2 separate regions of the Homo sapiens genome follow, and region 2 is linked to region 1. The links come from fine-mapping of genetic effects on gene expression. A gene starts in region 1. The other region holds a variant in brackets. All regions are shown on one strand. Distances are between the middles of the regions. Region 1 holds the start of ANKRD52 (ankyrin repeat domain 52). Region 2 overlaps SLC39A5 (solute carrier family 39 member 5).

Region 1 (5,366 bases):
CAGGAGATTGAAACCTCCTGGCTAACATGGTGAAACCCCATCTCTACTCAAAGTTAGCCGGGCATGGTGGCAGCACCTGTAGTCCCAGCTACTGGGGAGGCTGAGGCAGGAGAATGGCATGAACCCCAGAGGCGGAGCTTGCAGTGAGCCGAGATCCCGCCACAGCACTCCAGCCTGGGCGGCGACAGAGCGACACTGGTCTCCAAAAAAAAAGGTGAAATGAGAAACAAAGGTGTACAATTTAACCAGATTGTGGCAGTATAAACTAAGTATGTAAGTGTTAAGGAGAACTAACAAAAGGAAAAGAGCCTATTAGCCAGAGGAGACTTCCTGGAAGAGGTAAGTTTAAATTTCTTCATAATTTTTGTGTGTGCATGGAATCACGGAGTGATTGCTCCTAAGCAATATTTTAACTTTTATTTTCAATATGGTAAAAATTTAAAAAATTCCAAAAGGTATATAGTGATAGGTAAATTTCTCTCTCATTCCTTATTTCCTGTACCCCAGTTTTTCTTTCTGGGAAAAAAGGACTGTTACTAGTGTCTTAAGTATCTTTCTAGCAGGAAAGCAAGGGAAGGCTTTTTTTTTTTTTTTTTTTTTTTGACATGGAGTCTGGCTCTGTCACCCAGGCTGGAGAGCAGTGGCTCCATCTCGGCTCACTGCAACCTCCGCCTCCTTGGTTCAAGTGATTCTCCTGCCTCAGCCTCTCCAGTAGCTGGGATTACAGGCGTGCACCACCACACCAGGCTACTTTTTTATATTTTTGGTAGAGATGGGGTTTCACCATGTTGGGAATGGGAAGGCTTTTTTTTTTTTTTTTTTTTTTTTTTTTTGAGACGGAGTCTCGCTCTGTCGCCCAGGCTGGAGTGCAGTGGCGCAATCTCGGCTCACTGCAAGCTCCACCTCCCGGGTTCACGCCATTCTCCTGCCTCAGCCTCCCAAGCAGCTGGGACTACAGGCGCCCGCCACCCTGCCCGGCTGATTTTTGTATTTTAGTAGAGACGGGGTTTCGCTGTGTTAGCCAGGATGGTCTCGATCTCCTGACCTCGTGATCCACCCGCCTCGGACTCCCAAAGTGCTGGGATTACAGGCGTGAGCCACCGCGCCCGGCCGGGAAGGCTTTTTTGAAATGTATTTTCGCCGGGTGCGGTGGCTCACGCCGGTAATCCCAGCTCTTTGGGATGCCGTGGCAGGTGGATCACCTGAGGTCAGGAGTTCGAGACCAGCCTGACCAACATGGTGAAACCCCCGTCTCTACTAAAATAAAAAATTAGCCGGGCAGGGTGGCGGGCGCCTGTAGTCTCAGCTACTTGGTAGTCTGAGACAGGATAATCACTGAACCCGGGAGGCGGAGGTTGCAGTGAGCCGAGATCGTGCCACTGCACTCCAGCCTGGGGGACGAGAGTGAAACTCCATCTCAAAAAATAAAATAAAATGTATTTTTATTTTTTAATTTTTTTCCTCTCCCCTCAAGGGAGGATTTTTATATATAAAGCCTTGACAGGACGCCAGCATGCTGCACTTCGTCCATTTCGTGTTCTCTTCAATGTGTATTGAGTTGTGAAACTCTGAACAGGACCCTGGATCACCTTTTATAAATTGTATCAATTTTTCAATCTCCACTTTTCGTCTTCCTCCTTTTTCCGTTTCTGGGTTGAGATGACCTCCATTCATTTCTTCTCTAATTGACGGCTCTCTGGCCTCTCCATTGGAGGAGGGGAAGCGCCACAGGCTGTTCTGGGGAGAAATTGTTGAGTGTTTTCCACTTTAACCTTGCAATGGAATCAGTAAGGAGTTGGAAAATGCCCCTTCTGTTGGTCTTGGCGGCCTTTTCCAGCTGCCAGTTGTCATGGCCTCTTTGTGGGTGTTTTCTGCAGTAGAATCCTCCTTGGGGTTTCTCTGCAGTTTGAGCACTTTTGCTATTTCTTCTCTACCGAACTCACGCCTCCGCCAGTGGAGATACACGCTTTCCCTCCCTCTGGGGCTATTGCCATACATAATTCCCAGTTCTCCACCCGCCAGTTCCTCCTAGTCTGTGGGGGATTTCGGGGTGTGGAATCGCTGACGGGAGGAGTTAGCTCGGGCGGGAGCATTGTGGGCTGGGTAAGATCTGGCCAGCCGTTCGGTCCTCAGTTTGGGAAGCACCGCGGGACTAAGGCCCAGGTTTCCGCTAGGGTCTTGTGGGGAACCCCTTGGGCCGCCAGACTGGAGCGGAGAGCACAGCGCGGCCAGCTGCGTGAGCCGGGGAGCCGGCGCGCGAGTTCGGGGGTGCAGGGGCTGCTGGGGCCGCCAGGGTGGGGCGGAGGGCGCTGCGGCCGGGGTCCGTTTGCGCGGGGAGCGCCGGGACCAGGACGGCCGCCAGGGAGCGCTGCGGCCTCCAACTCGCCCGCCCCCCGGTAGGCGGGGCCGCGCTCTCCCTGCAGCCGCCACCGCAGCCGCCGCCTGGGCCGCTCCGTGTCCCCGGTGGAGCCGCCGCCGCCGCCGCCGGGAGCTCGATGCGGACGGAGCCCGGGCCGAGCCATGGGGATCCTCAGCATCACGGACCAGGTCAGCCCTCCTGCCCTTTCCCGCTTCCTCCTTCCAGGGCTCGGCGCTGCCGTCACGCGAGCCCGGGGATGTGCGGCCTAGGCTGGGCCTGAGCCCGGGGCTCCCGCAGCTCCCGCCCCGCCCCATGCCGCGCTCCCCTCAACCGAGCCGGTGTCCTTGGGGACCTGGCAACCGGCGGAGGCACCGCGGGAGCTCGCTCCAGCCAGAATCCCTAGAGTGGAGCCCCTCCACGGACGCCCCCCACTCAAACCTAGGTGCTCCCCCACCCCCACCCCCACACCGGTTCCGCTCCGGCTCCAGCCCGCTCTCAGAATGCCGGTTCTCTCTGCAGCCGCCCCTGGTCCAGGCCATCTTTAGCCGAGATGTGGAGGAAGTGCGTTCCCTACTCTCGCAGAAGGAGAACATCAATGTGCTGGTGAGTTGGGAGCAGGGAGGATGGCGAGACCGGAATCCTGGCTCCCGTGTTCTGGACCCCTCCCCACCGGTGGGGCGGCTCCGTGTCTCCTCTGCTCAGATGAGGCCGCAGTTCTTTCCATCCTGGAGTGAAAGCCTACTCTGCATTTGGGGATGGAGAGCAGGTCAGGCTTGAAGCCCAGATCACTTGGGCTGGGAATGCCCAGGAACGTTGTTCTCTTCTCAACCTCCGGAGTCTGCAGCGCCCCCACCCCTCCTGGAAAAAGGAGCCGGCTTCTCAGCCCATTGGCCCTGACTCCACCCTCCCTAGGTGCTTGCCTTTGACTCCCAATACCGGGACTTAGGACGCTGCAGAAACTATGGGAAGAGGTTGTGGGGAAGGGCCTGGAGCTCTGAGACTTGGGCTGGGGTCCTTGATAGCCCCCTTACCCCGCGCCCATACTCCCTGCTCTTTTTTGCCTTCCCAGGACCAAGAGAGGCGAACTCCATTGCATGCTGCTGCCTACGTAGGCGATGTCCCCATCCTCCAGTTGCTACTGATGTCAGGTGAAAGTGGGGAGCTGGAAGGTGTGGCACATAGGGAGCGAAGGGAGGGGAGGAGTCTTTTTTGATATTCAAGGATTGCTCTCCCCGGCTTGGTCCAGGCGAGGCTCCAGCTCCATTCAGATTTCCTGGCCTGATTACTGGCTTCCTTCATACCTCCTCCCCACCTTCCATCAAAATAGGAAATTATATCCCCACAGGTGCTAATGTCAATGCTAAGGACACACTGTGGCTGACCCCTCTTCATCGTGCTGCTGCCTCCCGAAACGAGGTATGCACCCCCACCTTCTATTACCCTTTCAAAAAGGATAAGTTGCTTAAAGGTGGGGGTTAAGGGTTAAGGAGCCTCAGTCCTCAGCCCTACAAGCTGTTCTACCCCAGGTAGTGAGGAGATCAAATCTTGGCCCCTTCCTCCTACCCCTAGAACTGGCCAGTAAGGGGGTTGAGTGCTGCCAGCTGATGTGACTCAGGAAGAGCTTAACACTGGGCTGGCAGACTGCGGGGGCCCTGCTGCCAGGCCTGAGTGACTCATCCCTCCCTGGGGGGCCACCTTGAGTCTGATCCCCCTCTGGGCACTGAGATTTCTTTTCCTTGTGATGGAGGATGGGTATAGTAATCTGTTGCATCCTTGGCCCTCAAGCAGCTTGAAAGTTGACAGCACAGGGGCCAAACATATTTCATCAGTTGGGTCCTTTATCCTATTCCCATCAGCCCTGAAGACAGGGAAAGGGGGACCTCCTCCTCAGTTCATCACTTCCCTGGCTCCAGCCACCAGGGGGAGGGGCCGAGGCCAGTGGGAATGAGGTGGGTGGTGGTTAGGAGGGGCATTTTAGCTCGGGTTTTGCAAACGAACCAGTATCTGTTTGCTTACTGAGATACTGAAAATAATTTTGGTGCCTATGAGAAGGCTAAAGAGGGTGTTCAGGGCAAGATGTAGCAAGAGCATTTAGTTTTCCTAGAAGTAGTAGGGGGTTGGGATGTGTGGATCTCCACATGTGGATTTGTTTGGGAATGGATGTATGTGTGAGTGAAGATTTTCAGGGTCTAAGTTGGCGAGTCAGGTGGCTTGAAGAAGAGCAAAGGGTCCTTGTTTTAATCAGCAAGGTAAGGAAGAGCTTAAGTTCTAAGAAGATCCAGAAGATGGAAAGTAGGTATTCAGAGGCTAGGTATGTTGGAAAAATGAGAAGAGATTCTGTGCTGGGGAAGGGGCTGTAGATGCTATGCTGACCTATTCCTCCTTCCATTTCCTGTTGTTTTACCTCCTGCTCCCACTCTCTCTTTTGTCCCCTGCCCCTCAACAGAAGGTGCTGGGGCTGCTGCTGGCACATTCAGCAGATGTGAATGCCCGGGACAAGCTGTGGCAGACACCACTGCATGTGGCTGCTGCCAACCGGGCCACCAAGTGTGCTGAGGCTCTGGCACCCCTGTTGAGCAGCCTCAACGTGGCTGACAGGAGCGGGCGCAGTGCTCTGCACCATGCAGTGCATAGTGGGCATCTTGAGGTGAGGACTGTTCCCATCCAGGCCCAGCTGGGGCTTTCCCTTTTCTTACCTTCCTACTCACGTTTCCCTGCTTCTGGGCCCTCAAGCCTGAAGGAGAAGCAGCCCGGATGGTTATATAAACACTTAAGCTGAAGCACTAAATGAATGGTCAGACTAGATTAAAATTCTTAACTTGGACTTCAGGAGGTTGATAAAACCTTGGATTTTGCGTGGAAAATATTTGCATACACGCCTTTCTGAAGAGAGTCCATGTCTTTCAGCACATTTGCAAAGACTTACAAGAGTTTAAGAACCGGCCGGGCACGGCGGCTCACGCCTGTAATCCCAGCACTTTGGGAGGCGAAGGCGGGTGGATCATGA
Region 2 (5,366 bases), 25 kb after region 1:
TTGTATTTTTAGTAGAGACAGGGTTTCACCATGTTGGTCAGGCTGGACTCGAACTCCTAACCTTGTGATCTGCCCGCCTTGGGCTCCCAAAGTGCTGGGATTACAGGCGTGAGCCACCGCGCCCGGCCTGGCCCAGTTCTTGACTGGGACTCTGGTCTCAGCAGAAGGAGGAGAAAAGGGTATCACTCACTGGCCTGAGCCCTCGGTGCCGCAAAAGCCCCAGCATGTTCTCCAGCACAAAGAGCAGGAAGAGGCCTCCGAGCACTGACAGCCCCGGGCCCAGGTCCTTCTCTGGTAGTCCGCCAGGTCCTGCGTGCCGCCCTTCTTGTGCCTGACAGAGAGAAGGTCAGGGCAGACTCTGGAAGCCCCTATACCCAACAACATCCCCTTGCATGGATTGTGGCAAGCCTTCGCTCATATGCTCTACTAGAAGGCAGCTGTGGGCTGAAGCCAGGATCTGGGAGTAGGATATGGGAGCTGATGGAAAGGCGGAGGGGATGTCCTATGGCTGGGGACACCTTAGATCCATGGAGGCCAGGGGTACAAGGAAGGGGCTTCACATACATGCGGTAGCAGATGTAGCAGTGCATCCCCACAAAGAGTGCCCACCGCCAGGGCCCCCAGGAAGCCCAGCAAGGGCCGTAGTAGACGAGGTCCCAGGAGCCGCAGCAGCAGCAGGGATAGGGGAGAAGGGAGGCTGAGCAACAGGACTGCCAGGGCACTCTGAAGCAGGGCTGGGGAGAATCAGGGGCTGAAGTTAGGTCAGGGCAAGAGGAGGGTCCCACACGTAAGGTGGAGCAGAGAGAACACTACAAGGAGAGGCAGGACCCCAGTGAGCCTCCTTTTTGGCATGGGCCCCACTTCCAGGATTCAGGGTGTCCCCCACCCACTCCTACTTGCTGACCAGATAGTAGATCCCCTGGGGGTGCAGGGGCCGGAGCGCCGATGCAGACGCGGCTGTCGATCTGATAAAGCAGGGCTGGGCACAGCAGAGCAAACTGACGAGGGGTCAGAGGAGCAGCGGGGCTCAAGCCAAAATTGACCAGCAGCTGGGAGCCGTTCAGACACTGGAGAATTGAGGGTCATACATTGGAGAATCACCAGGAACTATGACTCAGATCTTTAACACCTGGCCAGGTGTAGTGGCTCACACCTATAATCCCAGCCCTTGAGAGGCCCAGGCGGGTGTATCATCTGAGGTCAGGAGTTTGAGACCAACCTGGCCAACATAGTGAAACCCTGTCTCTACTAAAAATACAAAAATTAGCTGGGGATGAGCCGGGTGCGGTGGCTCACGCCTGTAATCCCAGCACTTTGGGAGGCTGAGGTGGGTAGATTGCCTGAGCTCAGGAGTTCGAGACCAGCCTGGGCAACATGGTGAAACCCTGTCTCTACTAAAATACAAAAAATTAGCTGGGCATGGTGGCGTGCACCTGTGATCCCAGCTACTCAGGAGGCTGAGACAGGAGAATCGCTTGAACCCAGGAGGCAGAGGTTGCAGTGAGCCGAGATTGCACCAGTGCACTCCAGCCTGGGCGACAGAGTGAGACTCCATCTCAAAAAAAAAAAAAAAAAATTAGCTGGGGATAGTAGTGAACACCTATAATCCCAGCTACTCGGGAGGCTGAGGCAGGAGAATTGCTTTAACCCAGGAGGTGGAGGTTGCAGTGAGCCAAGATCACGCCATTGCACTCCAGCCTGGGTGACAGAGTCAGACTCTACCTCAAAAAAATATATATATATATATTTAACACCTGTCCTTCCATTGCATAGACTCCTGGGTCTCTCCCAGGGTCCCCTTTGCTCCTACTGGCAGGTACCTTGGGGACTAGGGCCAAGGGTACTTATAATCAATGTGTATTATTAGTGAATATTCAGTCCAATGCAGGTATTCAATTTGATGCAAACTGGGTGCTAGTGAGCATTGTCATCATCTTCCCTGCAAACTCTGATCATTTCAATCATTTTGTTGATTTGATAAATGAAGCTGGTTGGAAAACTAGAGCTCTCCATGCCAGAATCTTAAAAGGGAAAAGACCCTGAAATGCCATCTAA[T/C]CTCCCTCTCAACAGCCCTGTCGATGTTCATCCAGCCTCAGCTTGAATGCTTCCTGCAATGGGCACTCACTGGACCTCCATCAGGGTTAGGCAGCTTTGTCTGCCCTCTGGTGTAAGTGGAATATATTCTCTGTCTTTCTGGATGAAGACAGCCATCCATTCCCTGCAGGTCTCCTCTCCAGGTGACCATCCAGATCCTACCCTGGGCTGCTTCTCTAGATTCTCTGCTTTGCCATCTATTCCCCTAAACTGAGTCTTGGAGCTCTGGATATGGGCTCACCTGCTCTGATCCCAGAGGGAACATAGTTCACTATTGAAATAACATCCCCTAAGACCACAGTGAGATATTTTTTTTTTATTTTTTTATTTTTTTTATTTTCATTTTTGAGACAGAGTCTCGCTGTGTTACCCAGGCTGGAGTGCAGTGGTGCAATCTCGGCTGACTGCAATCTCCGCCTCCTGGGTTCAAGTGATTTTCCTGCCTCAGCCTTCCGAGTAACTGGGATTATAGGCATGTGCCACCACGCCCAGCTATTTTTTTTTTTTTTTTTTTTTTTTTTTTTTTTTTTTTGAGACAGAGTCTCCCTCTTGTTGCCCAGGCTGGAGTGCAAATGGTGCCATCTTGGCTCACTGCAACCTCTGCCTCCCAAGTTCAAGCAATTTTCTCACCTCAGCCTCCTGAGTAGCTAGGATTACACACACCTGTTACCACACCCGGCTAATTTTTGTATTTTTTAGTAGAGATGGGGTTTCACCATGTTGGCCAGGCTGGTCTCGAACTCCTGACCTCAGGTGATCCACCCACCTCGGCCTCCCAAAGTGTTGGGATTACAGGCGTGAGCCACCACGCTTGGTCCACGTTGGGATTTAAAAACAAAACAAAACAAAAAACTACTGATTATTTAAACATTTCAGGCCATCTAATCCCATGGCTCCTTCCCCTCTAGAGACCGTCAGACTCACATCCTCATTCAGGTGGTCAGCCAATGAGTGGTCCAGCAACAGAAGCCTGTGAAGGAGGTCCAGGCCCGAGGGGGCTGGCCCACGGGGTAGGTGAGGGGCCTTTGACTCTTCCAGGTCACCCCACCCTGAGGGACCCAGAGGCATCCCTGCCCAGACATCCACACTCAGCTCAGGGTTCTGTGGCCTGGAATGGATGAGACAGCAAGTCAGCCTCCCTTGTGTTCTCTATCAACCCGCTTTGAGAGGCTCCCAGGGATTTTAGGGGGAATGGGGGGACTAGCCACTGACTGGAGATCCTGGGACCCAGAAACCATGGAATGTCATTCTTAGGAAGATCTGTGAGTTGTCCATTTTCTGCCACTGGGGGGGACAGAAAAAAAAGGACGACAACCAAAAGGGCTACGAATGGCTGGGCACGGTGGCTCACGCCTGTAATCCCAGCACTTTGGGAGGCTGAGGTGGGTGGATCACCTGAGGTTGGAAGTTCGAGACCAGCCTGACCAAAATGGTGAAACCCCGTCTCTACTAAAATTGCAAAAATTAGCCCGGCGTGGTGGTGTGTGCCTGTAATCCCAGCTACTCAGGAGGCCGAGGCAGGAGAATCGCTTGAACCGGGGAGGCAGAGGTTACAGTGAGCCAAGATCACACCACTGCACTCCAGCCTGGGCGACAGAGCGAGACTCTGTCTCAAAAAAAAAAAAAAAAAAAAAAGAAAAGAAAAGAAAAAAGAAGTCTACGAATTTGGAGCCAAATCAGCCCAGAGACACTGAACAGTGATACTAAGAGCAAGAAATTTAAGGGCTTAGAGATTTGGAGGAGGAGAGAATTAGAAGGCAACGGAGGGCTAGGGTGGTAGTTCACATCTGTAGTCCCAGCACTTTGGGAAGCTGAGGCAGGCAGATCGCTGAGCTGAGCCCAGGAGTTTGAGACCAGCCTGGGCAACACAGCGAAACCCTTGTCTCTGTAAAAAATTTTTAAAATTAGCCGGCTGTGGTGGTGTGTGCCTATGGTCCCAGCTGCTCAGGAGGCTGAGGTGGGAGGATGGCTTCAGCCTGGGAAGCAGAGGTTGCAGTGAGCCGTGAATGTGTCACTGCACTTTAGCCTGGGTGACAAAGCGAGACCCCCAGTCTCAAGAAAAGAGAGAGAAGGCAATAGAAGCATGAGAGGTTTTGAAGAGATACCAAGGAGCTCGGTTCTGAAGAATTTGTAACTCCAGGGATCTCGTGAGGAAGCCAGAACGAGGCAACTGGGGGCAAGCACTGAGAGGACCTGGGAGATGTGGCCCTGTGGAGTGGAGGAAGGGGTCAGTACCTGTGTGTGGAATTGTCTGCAGCTGGGGATGCAGCCCGTCCAGTCAGAGGCCCATGCTGTCCCAGGCGAAGCCCCTGAACTCGGCCTAGCCCCAGGCTGTGGAGAAGCCGCGCCAAGCCCCCTGCAGTCAGCGTCCCATTCTCGCCGTACAGGCCAAACAGCTGGGCCAGGTAATGGTTCTGCTCCTGCTCAGCAGGGCCCAGGTTGGGGACTGAGCCCCCTACCCAGCCCAAGACGACCCACACACAGAAGCCGGCCAGCAGATGACTCACTGGGGACCCCATCATTGGTGAGGGGAATAGCTTAGGGGCTCAGGTTCTGGCTCCTATTCTCCCCGAAACATCCTGAGGACTGTGCCCTGGAAGAATGAGGAATGGGCTGGAGCTGCGCTCTGCTCTCCAGCTCAGGTCCATGGGGGAGCCAGAGCTCCTTGCACCTGCTCCCCACCGAGTCCAGCAGCAGCCCCTACTGCAGCCTTCTTTCTCCCTTCACACTGCCTCCTGCGGGAGCAGCCTCTTGTTTGCTGGTTCCTGGAGCACCTCCCTGAGTCAGAGCTCTCCTCATACTTCATCCAGAGCTGACCGTCCATTCCTTGTCCCCTAAACCCCACCCCTCAACTTTGCCCCACCTCTTTATCCCCCCTCAATCCCCAGGGCCTCACCCCTACTGGCAACATAAGAGCTGTCACCTCAGGTCCCCTATTAGGCCTTGCTGTAGACGTTAAGCAGTTCCTGAGTCAGGGAAGGGGGAATCCAGGCTTAGCCTCCAGGTGTCCAGGTGGATCGGAGGCCACGTCACATAGAAGGCTGAGATGGACATGCACCCCCTCCTAGCCCACCTGCCTTGGGGCGGGGTCAGGGGTGGGGCCAGTGTGTGAAGGCTCACATAAGAGAGGAGTTAATGGTTCACTGGTCTCTGGGGTAGGGATCAAAAGTCAGTCTCTGCTGGGCCCCTGGGTAGGGAGGGGCCACCCTCTGCCCTGGGAAAGCCACATGGCTAAGGAGAACCTGGGCCTAGTCTTTTTCCTCTTAAATAAT

What was found. PIP is the estimated chance that this variant, and not a neighbour inherited with it, causes the effect. A credible set is the group of variants that fine-mapping cannot tell apart.
Region 2: its variant is the best candidate, but not a certain one, in a credible set for the expression of ANKRD52 in whole blood (TOPMed, PIP 0.61).

Annotation. Positions count from the first base shown.
Region 1 is chr12:56,255,424-56,260,789 of GRCh38, reverse strand. It overlaps ANKRD52 (ankyrin repeat domain 52), which reads left to right and starts at 2,406. Exons shown (of 28, transcript NM_173595.4): 1 at 2,406-2,547; 2 at 2,879-2,962; 3 at 3,429-3,507; 4 at 3,705-3,775; 5 at 4,806-5,006. The coding sequence starts at 2,521. RefSeq lists silencers at 2,148-2,207, 2,218-2,767, 2,788-2,857 and enhancers at 2,918-2,967, 3,048-3,097, 3,404-4,396.
Region 2 is chr12:56,230,525-56,235,890 of GRCh38, reverse strand. SLC39A5 (solute carrier family 39 member 5) reads right to left here. Exons shown (of 13, transcript NM_173596.3): 3 at 5,018-5,060; 4 at 4,330-4,687; 5 at 3,019-3,202; 6 at 905-1,067; 7 at 565-734; 8 at 191-331. The coding sequence starts at 4,616. Among named protein-coding and RNA genes, the nearest start is that of SLC39A5, 3.2 kb to the right of the region's middle. The variant T/C (reference allele first, on the strand shown) is at 2,056.